Homo sapiens: one gene and its partners. The protein of the gene in region 1 interacts with the protein of each later gene in a pairwise test. Each region holds a gene or a part of one and is shown in the gene's direction. Other genes may lie near its edges. The genes, in order: PACSIN1, FCHO2, DIP2A, SLC66A2, ANKRD24, PHYHIPL and RTKN2.

Region 1 (3,500 bases):
GAAGGACAGAAGGGACAGGAGAGGACATGAGGGGTGGGGGCATTCACTGATTTGGGGGGCCCTCCCTGGGGAACCAGGTGGAGGGGTTGGGGGACGAGTGGGTATACCAGATAAGAAGGATGCTGCTTGGTTTGGTTTTACATTTTTCTTAAAGAAAAATAGCTTTTATTATTTTTTCTTATTACCAAAGTAATATAGGTTTGCTGTGGGCAATTTAGAATGTACTAGAAAGCCGAATGAAGGAAGCCCATTAGCCACATCAGACCCACCCACCATGGGCACTTCGTAACTGATTTCCAGCCAGGGGCAGGATGGACCGGAGGGGAGGTCTGGGCTGGGGACTTGGCGGGCAGGTCAGGGTCCCAGGAAGTAGCCGTGAGGATTGGCAGGCAGGTAGAGGAGGGGTCCCGGAGCTTCACTGTGGAAAGCAGGGAAGGAAGTGGGATTGGATGAAGGGGAAGTGGACTCTGATGCAGCCCAACAGGCAACAGGGTGCCCTGGGGCTAGAGTGGCCTTTCAGGTCATGTCCATTTGCCTGTGAGAGTCAGGCCCTAGACCCCAGCATCCTGCGCCCATCAGGCACAGGGTTTGGGTGTGCCTTCCTGCAGGTGGCTCTGTGGTAGCAGCAGTCCCTGAAGCATCTGCCCACTGAGGTCGCCTGCTGACAGCACCCACCCCCTGGGGCAACAGGTAGTGTTCACCACCAGGAAAGATGGGTTGGGAGGAACCCAGAGGTGGGCTGAAGGGACAAGATCAACCGGAGCCTGGCCTCAGCTGGCTCTGGGGAGACAGGACCTCTAATGCCAGGGAAGTTGCTGGTGCCGTTTCCAGAAAAGGAGCGTGTCTGTGGGGAGCAATTTAGAATGTACTGGAAAGCCAAATGAAGAAAACCTATTAGCCACTTCAGACCCACCTGCTGGGGACACTTTGTGGCTGGTTTCCAGCCAGGGGCAGGGTGGCCTGGAGGGGAGGGCTGGGCTGGAGACTGGGGTCGGGGGCTCCCCTCCACCCTCCCCTGGGTGCTGTCTCTGAAGACCTCAACCTTGGGTGTGAGGGGCTGCAGGATACCTGAAAACTGGGAGGGCAGGGGAGGCCTTGGCTATTATTATTATTATTATTATTTTTGAGACGGAGTCTCACTCTGTTACCCAGGCTGGAGTGCAGTGGCGCGATCTTGGCTCATTGCAACCTCCACCTCCGGGTTCAAGCAATTCTCTGCCTCAGCCTCCTGAGTAGCTGGGATTACAGGCGCCCACCACCACGCCCGGCTAATTTTTGTATTTTTAGTAAAGACAGGGTTTCACTATCTTGGCCAGGCTGGTCTTGAACTCCTGACCTCGTGATCCACCCGCCTCGGCCTCCCAAAGTGCTGGGATTACAGGTGTGAGCCACCGCACCTGGCCTACCTTGGCTATTATTTTAAAATCACTCGATATTGTTATAATTATTTTCTTTTTAGAGGCAGGGTCTTGCTCTGTCACCCAGGCTGGAGTGAGTGACACCATCATAGCTCACTGCAGCCTCGACCTCCCGGGCCCAAGGGATCCTCCCATTCAGCCTCCTGAGTAGCTGAGTGCTACCATGCCTGGCTAATTTTTCAATTTTATTGTAGAGATGGGGTCTTACTGTGTTGCCCAGGCTAAAAATAACTTGATATTAAAATGCTGGGTAGGGGCTAGGGTAGTCTTTCTATATAAAATGCAGCATACTCAGGTAATTTTAAATTTCAGAAAAACAACAAATGTGTTTTTGTTGTTTTTTAGTCTAAGTATGTCCCAAACATTGCATAGGACATATTTTTAATAAAAAACTGTATTTGTCATTTATCTGAAATTCAGATTTAACTAGGTGTCCTGAATTTTTATTTTATTTTATTTATTTATTTTTGAGATGGAGTTTTGCTCTTGTCGCCCAGGCTTGAGTGCAAGGCTGCGATCTAGGCTCACTGCAACCTCCGCCTCCCAGGTTCAAGTGATTCTCCTGCCTCAGCCTCCTGAGTAGCTGAGATTACAGGTGCCGGCCACCACACCCAGCTAATTTTTCTGTATTTTTAGTAGAGATGGGGTTTCGCCATGTTGGCCAGGCTGGTCTCAAACTCCTGACCTCAAGTGATCTGCCCGCCTCAGCCTCCCAAAGTGCTGGGATTACAGGCATGAGCCACCGCGCCTGGCCCTGAATTTTTATTGACTAAATGTGGCCACTGTAGGCTGGGGTAGGGAGGAGTGGAGAGAGAGGGTGAGAATTTTCTGTTCTTGAGTGTGGGGGAAGAATCAATAGATACTTGTTTGAAGTTGACAGTTTTAAAACATTAACACATCCATTTTTAGAAACAGGTGAGATGTTCCAAATTTCCCATCTGTTAACTTTCTATACTGGCTAGAGAGTAGTCCCTTATTTGTGGATTTTGGCTCCTTAGTGCTGCTGAGAAATAATAAAACAATAGTTTTCTCATTTATGCAGGTGGGACAAAGGGAGATGTGGTGATCAAGGGTGGAATCACTAAATAGGGGTAATCCATTTGAGAAATAAAAGTCCTCCTAAGAAAGCTCTCATTTGGCGGAGGGCGTGGGAAACTAGAACTCTCACGTCAGTCGGGGAGCATACGTTAGCACTGTGTTTTTGGCAACAGTGGTCACAGTTTTGACTTGGCAATTCCACTTTTTGGGACTTATTCCACAGGTACACTCTGAGCAGGGTGCAAAGATTAGCTGGGCAGAGACAGTCAGTGTAGCAAAGCTAGATGTCTGTCAGGAGGACCAGTGACAAAGTCAAGACCTCTTTGTACGCTGTGATTTCGGGCAGTTGTTCGTTCTGGGATTTAATCAATGGATCTCTGAATGTCGCTGCCTGCCAGGCACCACTTTAGGTGCTTGGGGACACTGAGACAAGATGGGGCGGAGCTTATTACCAGTGTGGAAAGATGGTCATCACGTACTGATAAGTTAAAGCAAGTGGCTTTGTAGAACAATGTGTGTAGTCAAGGTCAGGAGTTCGAGACCAACCTGGCCAATATGGTGAAACCCCTGTCTCTACTAAAAATACAAAAATTACCTGGGTGTGGTGAAGGACGCCTGTAGTCCCAGCTACTCAGGAGGCTGAGGCAGGAGAATCGCTTGAGCCCAGGAGGCGGAGGTTGAAGTGAGCCGAGATCGGGCCACTGCACTCCAGCCTGGGAGACAGAGCCAGACTCTGTCTCAAAAAAAAAAAAAAAAAAAAAAAGAACAATGTGTGTAGTATGATACAATTTTTAAAGTACATGTACATATGTTCTTCTCTGTTCATATTTACATAACAATGTGTAGAAGGCTGCATACCTGATTGTGATTAGAGCTTGCCTCTGGGCTGAGGCCTATCGCAGGGATCTGGAGGGAGAATGCGTCCTCTTTATTTCAGCCATTCTGTGCTGTTTGCATTTTATAAACAAATATCATTACTCATGAAGAAAACAATTAAAACTGCACTTGATGATACTGGGAATTTTTTTCTTAGAAACCTAAAAA
Region 2 (2,991 bases), on another chromosome or scaffold:
AAATTTGTTCTCTCAAAAATAAGACACAGGCTGGGTGCAGTGGCTCATGCCTGTAATCCCAGCACTTTGGGAGGCCAAGGCAGGTAGATCGTGAGGTCAAGAGATCGAGACCATCCTGGCCAACATGGTGAAACCCTGTCTCTACTAAAAATACAAAAATTAGCTGGATGTAGTGGCACGTGCCTGTAGTGTCAGCTACTCGGGAGGCTGAGGCAGGAGAATTGTTTGAACACGGGAGGTGGAGGTTGCAGTGAGCCAACATCGCACCACTGCCCTCCAGCCTGGCGCAGAGACTCCGTCTCAAAAAATAAAAAAATGAGATACAAATTTTCTAACCAGATTTTAAGTTTCCCTCTGCTATTCAGGTATCAGGTGTTTCTGTGAGGAAATGGAAAAATCTTATAAATGTGGTTTTTGATGTGGTTAGTCAAGCCTTTGAAAAGAATATCCAAGGCCAGGCATGGTGGCTCATTCCTGCAATCCCAGCACTTTGGGAGGCTGAGGCAGGTGGATCACTTGAGGCCAGGAGTTGGAGACCAGCCTAGACAATGTGGCAAAACCCTGCCTCTACTAAAAATACAAAAATTAACCAAGTGTGGTGGCACGTGCCTGTAGTCCCAGTTACTCAGGAGGCTGAGGCACGAGTCTAGCTTGAACCTGGGAGGCAGAGGTTTCAGTGAGCCAAGATTGCACCACTGTATTCCAGCTTGGGCCTTAGAGGGAGACTCTGTCTCAAAAAATAAATAAATAAATAAATAAATAAATAAATAAATAAATAAATAAATAAGAATGCTGTAAAATAGGCTGGGCACGGTGGCTCACACCTGAAATCCCAGCACTTTGGGAGGCTGAGGCGGGTGGATCATGAGGTCAGGAATTCAAGACCAGCCTGGCCAATATGGTGAAACCCTGTCTCTACTAAAAATACAGAATTAGCCAGGCATGGTGGTGTGCGCCTGTAATCCCAGATACTCAGGAGGCTGAGGCAGGAGAATCGCTTGAACCCAGGAGGCGGAGGTTGCAGTGAGCCAAGATCGTGCCACTGCACTCCAGCCTAGGCAACAGAGTGAGAGACTCTGTCTCAAAAAAAAAAAACACAAAAAATTCTGTAAAATAGAAATCTGTTTTCTGTTGCTGACTGTGTACTCAGAAGAGGGACAGGAAATATTTCTAAGGTGATTGTCAAGGTTGTTGCTCTTGGTCTATGGTAGAACTTTTGCACAACCAAATTGGTTATCAAGAATTGTAAAAGTTTGAGGGCCTGGATAGTAATTAAGAATAAGGCAGCAGTTCATCTCCACTACTGATCTATGCCTCCAGGCATAATAATACAAGTTGGATCAATGTTGTGACATCCTATTCTCCATTTCTCTGTGTAGTGTTAAGCTTCTGTGCAGGGGATCACAGGATCTTACTGCTAGTACCTAGCATTTCTGTCCATTTGCTCTATCCAGAAACCTGGGAACCCTCCTAGACTCCTCCTTTCTCATTTCTTGATTCCAACTCCTAAATATCTTTCAAATAACTTTCTTAATATCTTTCCTTTTTATTAGCCCTAGTTCAGATCCCCCTTTCCTATCATCTAGAGTCCTAAACTGTTTTGACTTGCAGTTGGTCTCCCAACCTTGCATCTTGTGCTTCTCTTCCCTTTTGAGACACTAATCTGAAATGTTCTTGTCTTCCTTATCTTTGGTGACTTCCCATGGTTACATCATGAATTTCTTACCATGGCCTGGCCCATGCTACCACTCTAGTCTCATCTGCCACTCCCCTCTACCTGTATCCTGTTCTCCTGCTAATCTGATATAGATGCTATTTCGTTAAATGCATCATGCTCTGTCTCTGTATCTTTGGTAACTTCTGCCTAAAATACACACCATCATCCCCACCACCATTTATAATTTTCAGCTGAGATAGGTGCTTTTGTGCCTGTAGCTCCTCAGAGCTCCTTTACAGCATTTATAATATTCATTATAATTATTGGTTTACTGTTCCTGCCATTCCATTAGACTGAAGTATACTGAATAAATGGTGATGATACTAGAAACAAAACACCTCAGAAATACCTACTTGGCATTATGTTAGACCAGTAAAACTTTAAAAAGAAAAGTGAATAGAAAATAGCAATGTTATACAACTCTTCCCAACCGTAGTTACCTTTCCATCTTTACTTCTTCTACTACTCAGTAGTCATTTCTTTTTTAACTTTATGCCACCTATATCCCTCCTAGGGTTTTTCTCTGGGCTGTCCTCAGTTACTTCCTTCTTCTCTTTTGACTCGCCTCAACATGCATATAGCATAGGAGTCCAGTAGTTAACATCTCTGAAGATTAGTATTGAGTCAAAGAAAAGCATGGGTTATTTACTTAATGAAAATTGATATTCACTAAAAAATATGAGATTTGGAAACAGGATAATAGTTTGTTTACTGTGCACATCTAATGAATGTAGCACAGGACTGATGTAGTTTAGCTTACTTGCTCATTTGATTCTATTTTGTTTGAAATGTATTTTACCCTGTGTAAGTGCTTTATTCTTTTCTTTGTAGGTTCTGGGTCCCTCCGAGCAAAATTTGATCTTTCAGAAGGACCTAGTAAACCCACGACACTTGCAGTACAATTCCTCAGCGAGGGAAGTACCCTTTCAGGAGTAGATTTCGAACTTGTGGGCACTGGCTATAGGCTTTCCTTAATAAAGAAGCGGTTTGCTACTGGTAAGTTAGGAGATTTCAAACTTTTTAATGTACATGGGAAACATTTGTATTCTAACAGTTATTAAAAAACTGTCAAGCAATTTATAATCTAAAGACATGGAAATTTTTTCTTTAACCCTTGGTACAAGGTGCCAGGTAGAGACACACCTGGGAGAGAGTTCTTACGGTCAGTATAGCTGAACACCTGTTATCTGATTCTAATGTACTGTAAATAGCAGATGGGAACTAGAGTTTTGTATTGGTAACCACAGTGGAAAATGTCCTTAGAGTGCATTTGA
Region 3 (3,500 bases), on another chromosome or scaffold:
AACCCCGTTGCTACTAAATATAACAAAAAAAAAATTAGCTGGTCATGGTGGCACGTGCCTGTAATCCCAGCTACGTGGGAGGCTGAGGCAGGAGAATCGCTCAAACCCAGGAGGCAGAGGGAGACTATTTTTATAATGATACTAAGATGCCATTTCTGTTTTCACTGTGTTGACACTTGTACTGATGGTCCAAAAGCAGTAATAGGGAAAACTGCTGGGCACTTTAACGTAAATTGAGGCAGGGACTCCAAGTGTCACTGATAGTCATTATATTATTCGCTACCTCTCCACTTGCAGTTTTAAAAAAACAAAAAGGGCTGCTTTCACTTAAACAGACCCTGATGAAGCAGTAAAAATTAAAAAAAAAAATTGGCCTTTTGTCTTTTCATGAGGAAATGGGAAGTACATGAATTGCTTTTGCTGCACAAAGAGGTACAGTGCCTGTTTTGAGAAACAGCAATTGTGTAGTTTGAGTTGCAAAGCGAACTAGCTGCTTTTATTGTGAAATGCCATTTTTGCTTGAAAAAGTGGGTAGCAGACAATCTGCAGTTATTGAGACTTGGGTATTTGGTGGACGTTTTCTGGAAAATAAATGAGAGGAAATAACTGACAATTTATGACCAATGATAATATTTGTGCTTTCAAGCAAAAATCAAAATTTTGAAAAAATTTATCTGCTACAGTGAGCTTGACAGTTTCTCAATAGTTAACGACTTCTTTGATGAGATTGGTGACAATATAATGAATGAGTATTTGATATTATATAATTAAATGTGTCAGCATTTGGAAGATCCACATAATTTTGTGAACTAATATTTTCCAGCTCACCATTGCACCACGTTACAAAGTCATAGTGCATGGGTAAAAGATTCATTCAAAAGATAGACCAATGGATTTTAATGTAGTGATATGAAAAGTTCACTGATAAGAGTTATAGATTCTACATTATAACTTTTTTTTTTTTTTTTTTTTTTTTGAGATGGAGTCTTGCTCTGTCTCCCAGGCTGGAGTGCAGTGGCGCGATCTCAGCTCACTGCAACCTCTGCCTCCCAGGTTGAAGTGATTCTCCTACCTCAGCCTCCTGAGTAGCTGGGATTACAGGTGCCTGCCACCATGCCTGGCTAATTTTTGTATTTTTAGTAGAGATTGGGTTTCACGTGTTGGTCAGGCTGGTCTCGAACTCCTGACCTCGTGATCCGCCCGCATTGATCTCCTAAAGTGCTGGGATTACAGGCCTGAGCCACCACTCCCGGCCACAACTTTTTTTTTTTAAGAGACTCCCCCTTGCCTGGTTTTGGTGTTGTATCAAGGAAGAATGTCCACAGTGATCTGAAAAGGCTGCTGAGACACCCCACCTTTTTCCAACTGCATGTCTCTCTGAAAAAGGATTTGATTCATAGACTTCAACCAAAAAAACCACACAGTACAACAGATTGGATACAGGAGCAGGTATGAGAATCCATATTGTCTTCTCTGAAGCCAGAGTTAAAGCAACTTGCAAAAATGTAAAAGAATACCTCTTCTTACTAAATGTTTTTGTTTTCAGAAATCTTTTATTTTTAGTAAAAAATATTATTTACCTTAATATCTAGTCAGTTTATTATTAAAAATTTTAAATGAGTTAGGCCGGGCGCGGTGGCTCACGCCTGTAATCCCAGCACTTTGGGAAGTCGAGGCGGGCGGATCACGAGGTCAGGAGGTCGAGACCATCCTGGCTAACACAGCGAAATCCTGTCTCTACTAAAAATACAAAAAATCAGCCGGGCGTGGTGGTGGGTGCCTGTAGTCCCAGCTGCTCGGGAGGCTGAGGCAGGAGAATGGCGTGAACCTGGGAGGCGGAGGTTGCAGTGAGCCGATATCGCACCGCTGCACTCCAGCCTGGGCTACAGAGCGAGACTCCGTCTCAAAAAAAAAAAAAAAAAAATTTAAATGAGTTAAATATTTAAAAAATTTCACAGTATTAGTTTTGTTTGTTTGTTTGTTTGTTTGTTTTTTAAGATAGTGTCTCGCTCTGTTGCCCAGTTGGGAGTGCAGTGGTGTGAGGATAGCTCACTGCTGCCTTTAACTCCTGGGTTCAAATGATCTTCTTGCCTCAGTCTCTTGAATAACTAGAACATAGTAGCTGAAAGACATGGATGTCATCATCTATTTCTTTATATTTTTTGTAACATTTTAAAGCTATTGCCTAGTTTAATAATTATTTCAGTTTGTGTATGTAAGGACAATCAGGCATTTAAATTTATAAAACATGTTTGAAAATCTTTAAAAGTTACACTTACTGACTAGTTGCTTGTCTGTTGCACTAACAAAATTTATTATTCATGTTTCGGGAATACCCTCTTTAGGTTTTGTTTGTTTTTTTTTTCATAGTAAATTATCCCAGTACAAGTGTCTTTGTACAAAATTTTGATTTCTAAGTTTCTTTAAAAATATCAATGCCAGCTGGGCCCAGTGGCTCACACCTATAATCCCAGCACTTTGGGAGGTCGAAGAGGATGGCTGAGGAGGTTGGATCGTTTGAACTCAGGAGTTTGGGATCAGCCTGAGTGACATGGTGAAACCCCATCTCTGCTAAAAAATATGAAAATTAGGGCTGGGTGCAGTGGCTCATGCCTGTAATCCCAGCAGTTTGGGAGGCCGAGGTAGACGGATCACTTGAGGCCAGGAGTTTGAGACCAGCCTGGGCAACATGGTGAAACTCCGCCTCTACTAAATAAAAAAAAAAATTAGCCTGGCATGGGGGCAAGTACCTATAATCCCAGCTACTCGGGAGACTGAGGCAGGAGAATCTCTTGAACCCAGGAGCCGGAGGCTGCAGTGAGCTGAGATTGTGCCACTGCACTCCAGCCTGGGTGACAGTGAGACTGTCTCAAAAAAAAAAAAAAAAAAAAGCTGGGTGTGGTGGTGCACGCCTATAATCCCAGCTACTCTGATGGCTGAGGCAGGGAGAACCGCTTGAACCTGGGAGGTGGAGGCTGCAGTGACCTGAAATTGCACCACTGCACTCCATGATACCCTGTCTAAAAAAAAAAAAAAAAGAGAGAAAATCGGCGCCAGAACAAATCCTACACAAGCCCACTTGTGTCAGAAATTTAAAATAGTCAGACTCATAGAAGCAGAGAGTAGAATGGTGGTTGCCAGAGACTGGGGTGGTGGGAGAATCTGGAAGGTGTTGATCAAAGGGTATATAGTTTCAGTTATACAGGATGAGTAACTGCTAGAGAGCTGCTGTACAGCATAGTGCATATAGTTAACAATACTGTATTGTATATTTAAAAATTTGTTAAGAGAGTAGAGCTCATGTTAAATGTTCTTATCACAAACAGGAAAGGAAGAAACTTTTAGAGATGATGTTTATGTTTATGTTTATGGTGATGGTTTCACAGGGATATACTTACCTTTAAATTCATCAAAATTTATATATTAAATATGCACGAGTTCTTATAGGTTAATCATGTCGATTTAAAAAAAGAAATATCAGTGATTTCAATTTTAATATC
Region 4 (2,367 bases), on another chromosome or scaffold:
CATTCACCAAACAGACCATATCCTGGGTCATGAGAATTTTTTTAAAAAAGAACTGAAATTGTGCAAAGTATTTTCTATGAATATAATATAATTAAGCTAGAAATTAATAGCAGAAATAGATCTTAAGTCTCCAAAGGTTTAGAAGCTAAACAACACACCTTTAAACAATCTGTTAAAGAGGATATTGCAAAGCAAACTATTGAAAATATTTTGAACTGAAAAATACACCACCATATCAAAATTTGTGGGATGCAACTAAAGCAATGCTTAGAGTTAAATGTGTAGTATTAAATACTGATTTTAGAAAAAAGTTCTCAAATCATCAATCTAAGCTTAAGAAACTATAAAATGAAATGCAAAGGAACCCCAAGCCAGCAGAAGGAAGGAAATAACGGAGCTAACACCAAGCAACAAAAATGAAAACAAAACTGCAGCAAACATAAAAAACCAAACTGAAAGCTGGTTCTTTGGAACAAATCATTAACTGATAAACCAGTGGCCAGAATGACAAGAAAGCACAGATCCCCAGTATTTGGTATGGAAGAGGATATTCTGTAGACCCCACAGGCATCAAAAGAGTACAATGAACAACCTCATGCCCATACATTTGAAAATTTGGATAAAATGGACCAATTCCTTTAACCCAAGAAGAAATAGCTTGAGTATCTCTTAAGTAGATAACCCGTATCTATGAAGGAAGTTGTAGATGCATAATCTAAAGTCTGAAAAGGCTCTTTTTCCAGAGAAGCCAGAAATTGTGTCTGTGTGTGGGTGTGTGTGTGTTTACAGAGTTACCAACTGATTAGAAACAAAGTGTTGAAACTCAAGTGTGAGCTGATGCTGCATGCCAAGTAAAGCCACGGGCTTTGTGTGGGAAGTAGCCTGTCCCTGAAGCAGGCGTGGTGGTGGCTCTCAGGCCTTGAGTCTTGTTCGCAAGCACATCCTGGGAAATCTCAGCCGTGTGTGAGGGTCAGGCGAGCTCTGTTTCCCATCCTGGTGTGAGGGGTCAACCGGAAGCTGCGTGGGGCGAAGGTGACCGGTGGCGGGGTCACCGCGCAATGCTCGGGCGCCTGCTGTGTGCATGGCTAGCGCAGGAAAGGCAGGCGCCTTTGCACCGGGGCTGTGGTCCCAGGCCCGGAGCCCCACCCCAAGTCAGCTGTGCAGCCCTGCCTGGGCCTAAAGCAGGCAGGGGGGAATTCCGAAGCCTGGGCTGACTGCTGGGGTGTGTGAGAGGCCGAGGGGCCTGCACCACCTTCCCCCGGTGCTACCCAGGCACCACCCTGTCTTTTTGTCTGTGGAAGAGACTGGATTTTGTGGAGCTGGAGCTGCATCCAGGGGAGGACACATCCCAGAGAATAAAAAATGGGAGGAAAATGCCCTCTGTGGGTCAGGGCCTTATAATTTAGCTAAACCGACCCAAGTGGAAACAGTCCCAAAGCCTCCTGGTTTTTCCCAGTGGGTGTAATGATAAAGCCGGATTTATGTTCTCAGAGGCCAACAAGATGCTCTAGAGCCGAGCACTGTGGGCTTGGGAGAGAGGAGGGGGTGCAGATGCCGGCTGTCTCCTGCGGGTTCCTAGCTCCAGCCCTGAACACACCCGGCCATGGCTGTGCCTGAAGACTCTCACACAGGGCGGCTACGGCACCCAGGTGCCCACCCTGGCTTATGAGCGGGACGGACGCCCCAGGGTGGGGGAGGGCTGTGTCCTGTCCTTTCTGTCCAGGCAGCGCTCCCCACCCAGGCTCTGCCTCTGGCTTCAGGAGCTGTGGAAGGGTCAGCGGCCGCTGATTTAAACATTTCACACGGGAAAGTGCAGCAGCACTCATGTTCACTGCTAGGCAAGCCAGGGCATGAACACAGCGGTGGGGGAAGCGTGTTCGGACTGGGATGGTGGGTGGCGGCTGCTCCCTGTTCACTCCAGGAAAGGAAGGTTTGCATCTATCACCAGGGAGGGAGGCCGGCAGAGACCCAAAAGCAGCTGCTCTGCTCCACTTGGCTGTGTGCCTGGGGGCACAGATCTGCGTCCTCAGCACCCTCCCAGGCCCGGCCCCTCCCAGAATTGCCACCGCGCACCAGGGGCCCTGACGTCAGCTGCTCGCCCTGCTGTCCCCTGTAGCCTCGAGCTGGTCTCACTGTTCTTGGGCTTGCAGAGCCCCAGCCAGGCGGCAGCTCTTGCGGCCACAGAGAAGTCAAGGGTGGGGGTTGCATGGGACAGGTGGGGTCAGGGTGTGTCCTTTGGCCCCCTGGGGTGTCCCTGACCCCTGGGTCACCCTGTAGACTGGGTGTCCCCTCAACCCCCTGGGTGCCCCCTGAGCCCCAGGCCTCCCCGCCGACTGCCTGGGGGTCCCCTTAGCCCCCTGGGTGCCC
Region 5 (3,500 bases), on another chromosome or scaffold:
TCTAGGGCCACAGGGATGGAATCCACAGGAGTCAGTGCCACAGGTGTGGAGAACCCAGGGGTAGAGGCCACGGTCCCGGGGATCTCTGCTGGCCCCATCCTACATCCTGGTGCCGCAGAGGCCTCGGAAAAGCTTCAAGTAGAGCTGGAGACCAGGATCCGTGGCTTGGAGGAGGCTCTCCGGCAGCGGGAGCGGGAGGCAGCTGCGGAGCTGGAGGCGGCCCTGGGGAAGTGCGAGGCCGCGGAGGCCGAGGCAGGCCGGCTGCGAGAGCGTGTCCGCGAGGCCGAGGGCAGCGGGGCCAGCGGGGGCGGTGGCGGTGACACCACACAGCTGCGGGCGGCCCTGGAGCAGGCCCGGGAGGACCTCCGAGACCGGGACTCCCGCCTGCGGGAGCTGGAGGCGGCCTCGGCCTGCCTGGATGAGGCTCGGGCCAGCCGGCTGCTGGCGGAGGAGGAGGCGCGGGGCCTGCGGGCCGAGCTGGCCCAGCGGGAGGAGGCGCGGCTGGAGCAGAGCCGGGAGCTGGAGGTTCTGCGGGAGCAGCTGGCCACGGCCAGGGCCACGGGGGAGCAGCAGCGCACGGCGGCCGCGGAACTGGGCCGGGCACGGGACGCCGCTGAGGCCCGAGTGGCTGAGCTGCCTGCGGCCTGCGAGGAGGCGCGGCAGGGCCTGGCCGAGCTGCGGGAGGCCTCCGAGGCCCTCCGCCAGTCCGTGGTGCCGGCCTCTGAGCACCGCCGGCTGCAGGAGGAGGCCCTGGAGCTGCGGGGCCGGGCAGCCAGTCTGGAGCAGGAGGTGGTGGCCACGGGCAAGGAGGCCGCCCGGCTGCGCGCGGAGCTGGAGCGGGAGCGTGTGTGCAGCGTGGCGCTCTCGGAGCACGAACGCATCGTGGGCACCCTGCAGGCCAACGTGGCCCAGCTGGAGGGGCAGCTGGAGGAGCTGGGACGGCGGCATGAGAAGACCAGCGCAGAGGTCTTCCAGGTGAGCAGGGCTGGTCACCACCCGGGCCCCACCCCCATTGGCCACGTGGCGGCCTGTTTTAGCCCCGCAGCCTTGAGGTGTTTTGAACCCATCAGTTTTACTTGAACAGACCTACTTTATTTTATTTATTTATTTATTTATTTATTTATTTTTGAGATGGAGTTTCACTCGTGTCGCCCAGGCTGGAGTGTAGTGGTGTGATCTCAGCTCACTGCAACCTCCTCTTTCCCGGTTCAAGTGATTCTCCTGCCTCAGCCTCCGGAGTAGCTGGAATTACAGGCACCTGCCCCCACGCCCAGCTAACTTTTGTATTTTTAGTAGAGATGGGAGTTCACCGTGTTGGCCAGGCTGGTCTTGAACTCCTGACCTCAGGTGATCCACCCACCTCAGCCTCTCAAAGTGCTGGGATTATGGGCATCAGCCTCCGCACCTGGCCTTGAACAGACATTTGACCCTGCAGCCATCCTGACCTCTTGGAATTTTCCACTTGTGTTTTCTCTCTTTCTTTCTCTTTATTTCTCCTTCCTTCCTCTCTCTTTCCTTTCTTTCTTCATCCCCCTTCCCTCCCCCCTTCCCCTTCCCTTCCTTTCTTTTTTTTTTTTTTTCAGACAGGGTGTGGCTCTGTCTGAAAAGTCACCCAGTCACCCAGGCTGGAGTGCAGTGGCACAATCATAGCTCACTGCAACCTCCACCTCCTGGGCTCAAGTAATCCTCCCACCTCAGCCTCCCAAGTAGCTGGTACCACAGGTGTGCACCACCATGCTCGTCTAACTTTTTAATTTTTTGTAAAGACAGGGTTTTGCCATGTTGCCCACGCTGGTCTCAAACACCTGAGCTCATGGCCGGGCACCGTGGCTCACGCCTGTAATCCCAGCACTTTGGGAGGCCAAGGTGAGTGGATCACCTGAGGTCACAAGTTCGAGACCAGCCTGGACAACATCGTGAAACCCCGTCTCTACTAAAAATACAAAAATTAGGTTGGCATTGTGGCACGTGCCTGTAATCCCAGCTACTGGGGAGGCTGAGGCAGGAGAATCGCTTGAACCCGGGAAGTGGAGGTTGCAGTGAGCTGAGATTACACCACTGCACTCCAGCCTAGGCGACAGAGCAAGACTCTGTCTCAAAAAAAAACAAAAACAAAACAAAAACAAGCAAATAGTAGCCAGGCATGGTGGCACCTGTGGTCCCAGCTACTTGGAAGGCCGAGGTGGGAGGATCACTTAAGCCTGAAAGATTGAGGCTACAGTGAGCCATGATCGCACCACCGCACTCCAGCCAGGAGTGCAGGTCCGGAGCAACAGAGCAAGACCCTGTCTTAAAAAAAATCCAAAAACAAAAGAACAAAGTAGAAGGATCATATGAATTCTGGGGTCTAGCATCATTGGAGTCTTAGTGTCCTGAGAGTCATGCGTGGGCTTGGGCCACAGGTGCAGCGTGAGGCCCTGTTCATGAAGAGTGAGCGACACGCAGCCGAGGCACAGCTGGCCACAGCAGAGCAGCAGCTACGGGGGCTACGGACCGAGGCGGAAAGGGCTCGCCAGGCCCAGAGCCGGGCCCAGGAGGCTCTGGACAAGGCCAAGGAGAAGGACAAGAAGGTGGGTGCCCCCTCTCCCACACTCAGTCAGGGAGGCATCCACTCAGCAAAGGTTGGGGCCAATCTACGAAGGTCCTCACTGCAAGGGCCTTGGAAAATCAACCCATTTTCCAGAAGGGAAACTGAGGCTCAGAAACGGAAGGGGACCTGGTTACAGCCTCTGACAAGTCAGACACACACAGGCTGCTGTTCCAGGTACCAATTATAACCACAGTTACATTTATTTTATTTTTTTACTTGAGACGGAGTCTCGCTCTGTCGCCCAGGCTGGAGTGCAGTGGCATGATCTCGGCTCACTGCAACCTCTGGGTTCAAGCAATTCTCGTGCCTCAGCCTCCCGAGCAGCTGGGATTACAGGCATGCGACACCACACCCAGCTAATTTTTTATATTTTTAGTAGAGATGGGGTTTCGTCACGTTGGCCAGGCTGGTCTCGAACTCCTGAGCTCAAGTGATCCGCCTGCCTCAGCCCCCAAAAGGGCTGGGGTTACAGGCGTGAGCCACTGCGTCTGTCTCCACAGTTACATTTATTGAGTGCTTACTGCATGCCAGGCCCTGTGGACTGGATGCATTTAGTCACATCCAGTTCTCACAGGATAGGGGCTTTTATTATCCCCATTTGAGGAAACAGAAGCACAGAGAGGTGAAGTCACTTGCCTAAGGTCACACAGCCATGCAGTCTTTCAGCTGGGTTTGTACCCACGTTCCCACGTTTCGTTCCTAAACAATACTAATGATGATAACAACAGCCTCCAGGTGTTAGATTGGGAATTTTTCACACATTACCTTTTTTTATTGTTGTTTTGTTTTTTTCTGAGGCAGAGTCTTGCTCTGTCACCCAGACTGGAGTGCAGTGGCGTGATCTTGGCTCACTGTAAACTCTGCCTCCCGGGTTCACGCCATTCTCCTGCCTCAGCCTCCCGAGTAGCTG
Region 6 (2,814 bases), on another chromosome or scaffold:
ATTTACACTGACCCTGTGGATCTTTCTGTGGGCACCGTGGCAGAAATCACTGGTCATCAGCTCATGAGTTTGTCTACTGCAAATGCAAAGAAAGATCCCAGCTGCAAAACCTGTAATATCAGTGTTGGACGTTAATGCCCACTTTTCTTATTCTTACTCAGCCCCTTTTCCTCCCTTAGGAGCATTGGTCCTCTGTTGTCCATTTTTATCACCAGATGTTTTCCACTGAAGCATGCACATGCCACTGTCACCAAAACAAACAACTACCACTTTCCAAATTTCATTCAGAACCATTTTAGTGTTTTCCTATTCCCTACCCCTCCCACTACTTTCAATGATGAAATACCCTAAGTTAAGTTCTCCTTTTGACACTTTATTGCCTAGATGCTGCAATGTTTTTATGTTTCCTTTATGCCAAACATAACAAAACAGTTATATAGACTGCTTTAGCAAAGTACACAATAATGGCTTATAAATGGTGTTTAAATATGCATTCATTTTAATCTACTGAACAAATATTGGGATAACTCCAAACCGCATGAAAGGGTGTAATTGCAGCATGAGTTAAATCTTGAAGCCTAGAATTGTCAGCACTTCCAACTTCTTGTTTGACAGTGTTATTTATGTTATTTATATTAGCTAACAGGAAACAACTACTGTGTTTCAACATAATAAATATAATAGAAAAATATTTTATTTGTATTGTTGTATAAAATATTTACAATCATATAGAATATATAGAGTTACATTTTAATAGCAACTGTGTACATGTCACGAAACCATTTCCCTTATCAAAGATGTAATTTGTAAACCTCAAATAGTTGTGTATCTGTCCTGTTAGAAGTAGATGACTTCAATTAAACAAATTTATGAAGGACATTATTCTGATTCATAAAAGTTATAAAATATTAGGTAAATACAGAGAAAACAATAAGCCTCTGAAATAAGTCTGTTTCTGAAATAGTCAATAGTCTTCCCATCCAAACTATAAGAGAATGTGAATTTCTTCAACATCATACTTAAACATTACAGAAAATAGAAATACAAACAAGGTTGGTACATGAGAGAAAATGTTGACCTTTTACTTCCTTTTACAAAAATGAAAATAATAAACATGTTTTCGTATAAAATAACACAAAATGATATACACTGAAGTTGATGAAGCAAATAAATATTCTGGCTTCTTTTTCAAGGTATCAGGGCAAACAATTTCCAAACTTTTCATTTTGTACAGAAGGATGAATAACTACAGCTCATGGGAAATGTTTTGACTTTACAAAGTATAGATGTTGGAACATTAAGAAAAATGTATATTCCCAATGAAAAAATAGTTATATCATCTTATAGTAAACCAAAAGATTAGCAATAATACTATGGACACATTAGATTATATACTACAGACACATATCTATCCAAAATACCTATTTTAAATTTTTAATACAATATTTTATTTTAATATAAACATCTGTCAGTTATAGACAAAGATAATAATTCACAAAGTACATGCTATCAGAATGAACTTTGGTAACCAGAAATGTAAAATTTCAAATAACGGATAAAATAATGTGTTATTTTTATAGAGAAAGAAAAAAATAGCAACACAATCTAGTTTATTTTAGGGTACTGAGAGCCTAGCAGACTTAAAGGACAAGGTAGTAAATGTTTTATCACTCAAAAATCCATTAGAAGTTTCAAATAAATTGCTTTCTTGCTAGCTGTATTCCTTCCTACTTGAAAAGCGAATTTCTTTTCCTCCTATGATTGATTTTTTAAAATCATGCTCTTTTCCATACATCAACATAAACAGTCTTTGGATACTAAATAAACTTTCCCTAACAAGTGTCCTAGCTATGTTATTTAGATTTGATAAAATATTAGACATTTTTAAAAATACTTGTATTGACTATGAGTTTTCTGCTTGGCATGGAGGACACTGAATTTTTTCCCAATTATATGGCTACCTGTTGTATTCTTCCCCCCGTTTAAATCCCTTCTCCTTGTATATAATTAAACTTGCTATTCCTTCTTAAAAACAGCTAATACTACCACTAAAGTGCTTCCATTTTCATTGTGTCAAAACTACTTAGCAAGGATGGCAGAGGAAAATAAACTTTACTTTATATCATGGGTGAAAGTGATCATAACATTTCCTGAACCTCAAATAGTTTTGGCCACATCTTGCTTGCTGATGAGGACCTCTAATAGTCTCAGTTTGGCTTTTATGTGCTTATATTCATAATACTCATCTGCCATTGGTATCCTATCTTCCTTTTGTGGACTTCTGCAAAACAAAAATACATTTGTTAGTTCACAATGAATCAAGTCATTATTTAAACATTCTTTTATAATTCATACATGAGAAAGTATACTGTAACGGCCTCCACTTGGTTTTTGCATCATGTCTTCTTTTCCTTCCCTTTCACCTTCATTCACTCCTTCTTCCATGTGTTACTAAGTTTCTAAATAATAGTAACCTTTGAAAACTTGAATGTCATAAGTGTTTTGCAAATATGTGGTCTAGTGCTTAGACTTACAACAAAGGGGTCAGTGAAAAGATCTAAGGAGAAGCAAACAAACAAGAAACAGAACTTTCAAGGCATTCTTTGTCCAGTCATTCTTCCATTATTTGCCACACCCCTACAGCTGTACAAAATGATCAGCCCTAATACAGTTGTTAAAAATATTAACCTGAAAATACTACAGGAATTTCATTATAAAAATAACATAAACCTATGGTAACAAGAAAAGCATTTAGGGTCTGTCTTACAAACTTGAAACGTTTCCAGATTTTCTTGTAATTATAATACCTATCTC
Region 7 (3,500 bases), on another chromosome or scaffold:
TTTCATCTCTAGCCAGAAAAAAGAAATTGGTTAAGTTTAATACTTTGGAAAATTTTAAATTTCTAGACCCACTAATATTCAATTTCCCACACCTTGAAGGGTGTTTATTTTTGTGCTGTTGCCTCAGTAAATAATGTTGTGAACAAGTGCAAGTCAGTCTAAATTCTGTTTAATTTGCCACTAATGTACCTGTACTTACATTCACTTTAAAATGTCAGGTTAAAAATGATACATTTGGGTTCACACATTTTAAAATACCAGTAATTTATTTAATAGAGATTTATCTCTGTTCTTTTATTTTTGCCAAGGAAAGTTTCACCCACCACCCTTATTACCAAAGTGGTATGAGGGCTTTACTCTGTTTTCCTGGGTTTTTGGTTTTAAGCATTTTCCCTTTTAACAGAGACTTTGCTGGTCTACAGGAAAGAATACTCATCCAAATGCAGTCATCCTAATATATATCTAGCTTTTGTAAAAAAGGAAATCTCTTACCTAGCAGTCAGAATAAGGTTTTAAATCCAGGAAATGTTATCTCATAAATACTTAATCTATAGAATTTTTTAGAAAACTCATATAACTCCACTTCTTTGAAAGATGGATTTTGCTAATTTATATAGGAATATATTTATACATGTGTATGTATTATGTAAATTATATGTATGTTATATATGTTTTATATACTATGTATTATGTGTATGTTTACATATATAATGTATGATTAGTGCAGCGCATGATCTTTTTAGTTCTGATGGTGTGGTTATTTTTACAAGTGAACGTTTTCCTTATCATAGTCTTTGATGACCATTGTATATAGCATACTAGTTTGGAAAAGAACTTATTTAGATAAAGTACATACTGCTTTTGAATTTTTTCATGTTTTTTTTTCTTAAAATTATTATAGGCATTGATTCACCTATGAAACTTGAAAGTTTAACGGATATAATACAAAAAAAAATTGAAGAGACAAATGGGCAGTTCCTTATTGGTCAGCATGAAGAATCCTTACCACCTCCTTGGGCCACACTCTTTGATGGTAACCATCAAATGGTCATCCAGAAAAAGGTACTGTATCCTGCAAGTGAGCCATTACATGATGAAAAAGGGAAAAAGAGACAAGCTCCCCTTCCTCCTTCTGATAAACTTCCATTCAGCTTAAAATCACAGAGTAACACAGATCAATTGGTTAAGGACAACTGGGGAAAAACAAGTGTATCTCAGACATCGTCTTTGGATACCAAACTATCAACTCTAATGCATCACTTACAGAAACCAATGGCTGCTCCTCGAAAACTTCTGCCTGCCAGGAGAAATAGATTAAGTGATGGTGAGCACACAGACACTAAAACCAATTTTGAAGCCAAGCCAGTGCCAGCTCCAAGGCAGAAATCCATCAAAGACATTCTGGACCCTAGATCATGGCTGCAGGCACAAGTATAGAAAACTCTTAATGATAAAACATTTAACAAAATCTATAACTGTGAAGCTTAATTCAGAGGCATTATAGAATAATGTGTAATTATATAGGTAAATATAGTGATTTATACCAATAATTAATAAGCTATTAGGTATAGAAAAACATTTTATAATGAAGAAGTGGATTTCTCTTTTACTCCTGATTTGCAGAATGTAAGTGATTTCTCCAGCAGTGTGCAAGAGGCAGTTTCTAGACAATATCCTAATTGTTGGAAGGGTTAATTTATTCCTGAATTAGTACCAGGCAGTGAATAAGCCCTAGGCAGAATAAAGCATTAAAATTTCTTTTGGGGAGAGACTGTCTAGTAATTTAAAATGTGTTAAATATGAACCATATTCTCATTGTGAGAATTTTAATACTAATGGAATGTTTCAAAGGTTTTATTCAAACCACAAATTATAGAATCCACCCAAGAAAATTTTCTTAGCATTCTGGAATTCTCATCTAATGGTTCACTGGCTCTCATCTATTGTTTAACTCACTAGTTTATAGGCCTGACCTTTTAAATTCCTGGGATAAATTTTAGAATATTAAATTCTTCATCTTTAAAGGGAATTTGTAATGTGCTATTCAAACTTGTTTCCTTGATGAGCCCTGAAATACTGTTGACATTAACTTTCATAAATGAAGCATAACACTTACTAGTTTAGAGAAATGGTAGATGAAATGCTCTTTACATTCAATTTTCTGTGTGTGGTGCTAATTTCCATTGTGACTTTGGAATTTAGGGAAGTGAGTAGCTGATCAACACCTTAAAATTCATTTAATACTTATTTAAAAAGAAGATGAGAGATTCAAAAATATCAGAAAAGTTGGCCATGGTAAATAATTTTCAGAATTCTTTTTTAAAATTTTAATTAGATTTCCTTTTCCTAGTAAGAGTTGATGTCTGCTAGTGGTATTTTTCATTAAATGTCATATTCTTACAACAGTGACATTGGAATCATTTCCATAGGAGGTAATTTCCATAGCAACTAATCATAGTGACCCAAACAGGATTATAAAGTCAAGTGAGGAATAAATAGCAGAAAAATACCTTAAAGGAACAAAAAATCCATTTTTTATAATAATGCTTTTTGTAAACAAGAGCAGAACAGTTTTAAAAATCTAATTAGAATTTCCAAATAAAACAGTTTCCATAAGGTGTCAGCAACAGCACTAAAAATCTCAAATCACACTGAACCCTAAATGTCATTGCAAGAAATAAAAATTTAAGAATTAAATTGCTGCCCTGTGTATAATCTCTTGAGATCTTTTTAAAGCTAGCAAGAACTCTATTTGGATCAGAACTACATTATTACAAAACAAAATGAACACTTGACCAAAAAACCACATTAATTTAAATGGAGCCTTTCATTATTTTCAGATAGCGGGGTCTTTTCCATTTATAGAGAATGATGTAACTGCCAGGACACTTTTGTGTTTGCCCAGGACTCCTAGTAAGAATTGAATCTTGAGGGAGTAATGATAACAAAAGGTTTCTTGTGACTGGTAACATCAGGACAGACAGAGTTTTTGGTGAGAAGAAAGTACTATATGCCTGCTTGATAGCATGTAGAGATCATCACATGTATGGAAACCTTAAAAAGTAAACTTATTTTTTCTAACTAGAAGGCTCTCATAAGTTTCTGTTATGATTGCCATTTCAATAAATGACATTAAAAATCTAAAGGATATTATTGTTTGAATTTTTGGGTTATTTTTTAAAACTTCATTGCTGTTTTTGACAGCATTTGTGACTGTCATTGCCACTAAATTATTGAGCTAGAAGATGCTGCAGGGAAAATTGTTTTGAAGCTGGCATCTAAGCATTCTTTTTTTTTTCCTAGTTGATGCCTTCCTTTATTACAAATCAGTATTAAAACTTCCAGATTATATTCTTGTCATTTTTCCTCATGCAGATAACAGCAGGAAGGACTTAAGGTGTATAAGAAAAAGAAAGTATTCATACAGAAATTACCTAGCAGTTGTGCCCTCAGAGTAGAACTTTGAAACAGGACTGAAGCCCTTTTTACCTAGAACCATT

What was found.
Region 2: the proteins of PACSIN1 (region 1) and FCHO2 interact in a two-hybrid assay, tested with the Homo sapiens proteins (one large-scale study listed by IntAct).
Region 3: the proteins of PACSIN1 (region 1) and DIP2A interact in a two-hybrid assay, tested with the Homo sapiens proteins (one large-scale study listed by IntAct).
Region 4: the proteins of PACSIN1 (region 1) and SLC66A2 interact in a two-hybrid assay, tested with the Homo sapiens proteins (one large-scale study listed by IntAct).
Region 5: the proteins of PACSIN1 (region 1) and ANKRD24 interact in a two-hybrid assay, tested with the Homo sapiens proteins (2 studies listed by BioGRID and IntAct).
Region 6: the proteins of PACSIN1 (region 1) and PHYHIPL interact in a two-hybrid assay, tested with the Homo sapiens proteins (one large-scale study listed by IntAct).
Region 7: the proteins of PACSIN1 (region 1) and RTKN2 interact in a two-hybrid assay, tested with the Homo sapiens proteins (one large-scale study listed by BioGRID and IntAct).

The regions. Positions count from the first base shown.
Region 1 is NC_000006.12:34,469,076-34,472,575, forward strand, and holds part of PACSIN1 (protein kinase C and casein kinase substrate in neurons protein 1), read left to right. Parts: intron 1-3,500. UniProt on the Homo sapiens protein: Plays a role in the reorganization of the microtubule cytoskeleton via its interaction with MAPT; this decreases microtubule stability and inhibits MAPT-induced microtubule polymerization.
Region 2 is NC_000005.10:73,085,041-73,088,031, forward strand, and holds part of FCHO2 (F-BAR domain only protein 2), read left to right. Parts: intron 1-2,548; coding exon 2,549-2,713; intron 2,714-2,991. UniProt on the Homo sapiens protein: Functions in an early step of clathrin-mediated endocytosis. Has both a membrane binding/bending activity and the ability to recruit proteins essential to the formation of functional clathrin-coated pits.
Region 3 is NC_000021.9:46,465,391-46,468,890, forward strand, and holds part of DIP2A (disco-interacting protein 2 homolog A), read left to right. Parts: intron 1-3,500. UniProt on the Homo sapiens protein: Catalyzes the de novo synthesis of acetyl-CoA in vitro. Promotes acetylation of CTTN, possibly by providing the acetyl donor, ensuring correct dendritic spine morphology and synaptic transmission.
Region 4 is NC_000018.10:79,904,287-79,906,653, reverse strand, and holds part of SLC66A2 (solute carrier family 66 member 2), read left to right. Parts: intron 1-2,367.
Region 5 is NC_000019.10:4,217,189-4,220,688, forward strand, and holds part of ANKRD24 (ankyrin repeat domain-containing protein 24), read left to right. Parts: coding exon 1-975; intron 976-2,402; coding exon 2,403-2,570; intron 2,571-3,500. UniProt on the Homo sapiens protein: Component of the stereocilia rootlet in hair cells of inner ear.
Region 6 is NC_000010.11:59,245,457-59,248,270, forward strand, and holds the end of PHYHIPL (phytanoyl-CoA hydroxylase-interacting protein-like), read left to right. Parts: coding exon 1-135; 3' UTR 136-2,157; coding exon of another isoform or gene 2,158-2,281; 3' UTR 2,282-2,314; downstream 2,315-2,814. Other genes in the region: protein FAM13C, read right to left, coding at 2,158-2,281. UniProt on the Homo sapiens protein: May play a role in the development of the central system.
Region 7 is NC_000010.11:62,195,845-62,199,344, reverse strand, and holds part of RTKN2 (rhotekin-2), read left to right. Parts: intron 1-901; coding exon 902-1,437; 3' UTR 1,438-3,500. UniProt on the Homo sapiens protein: May play an important role in lymphopoiesis.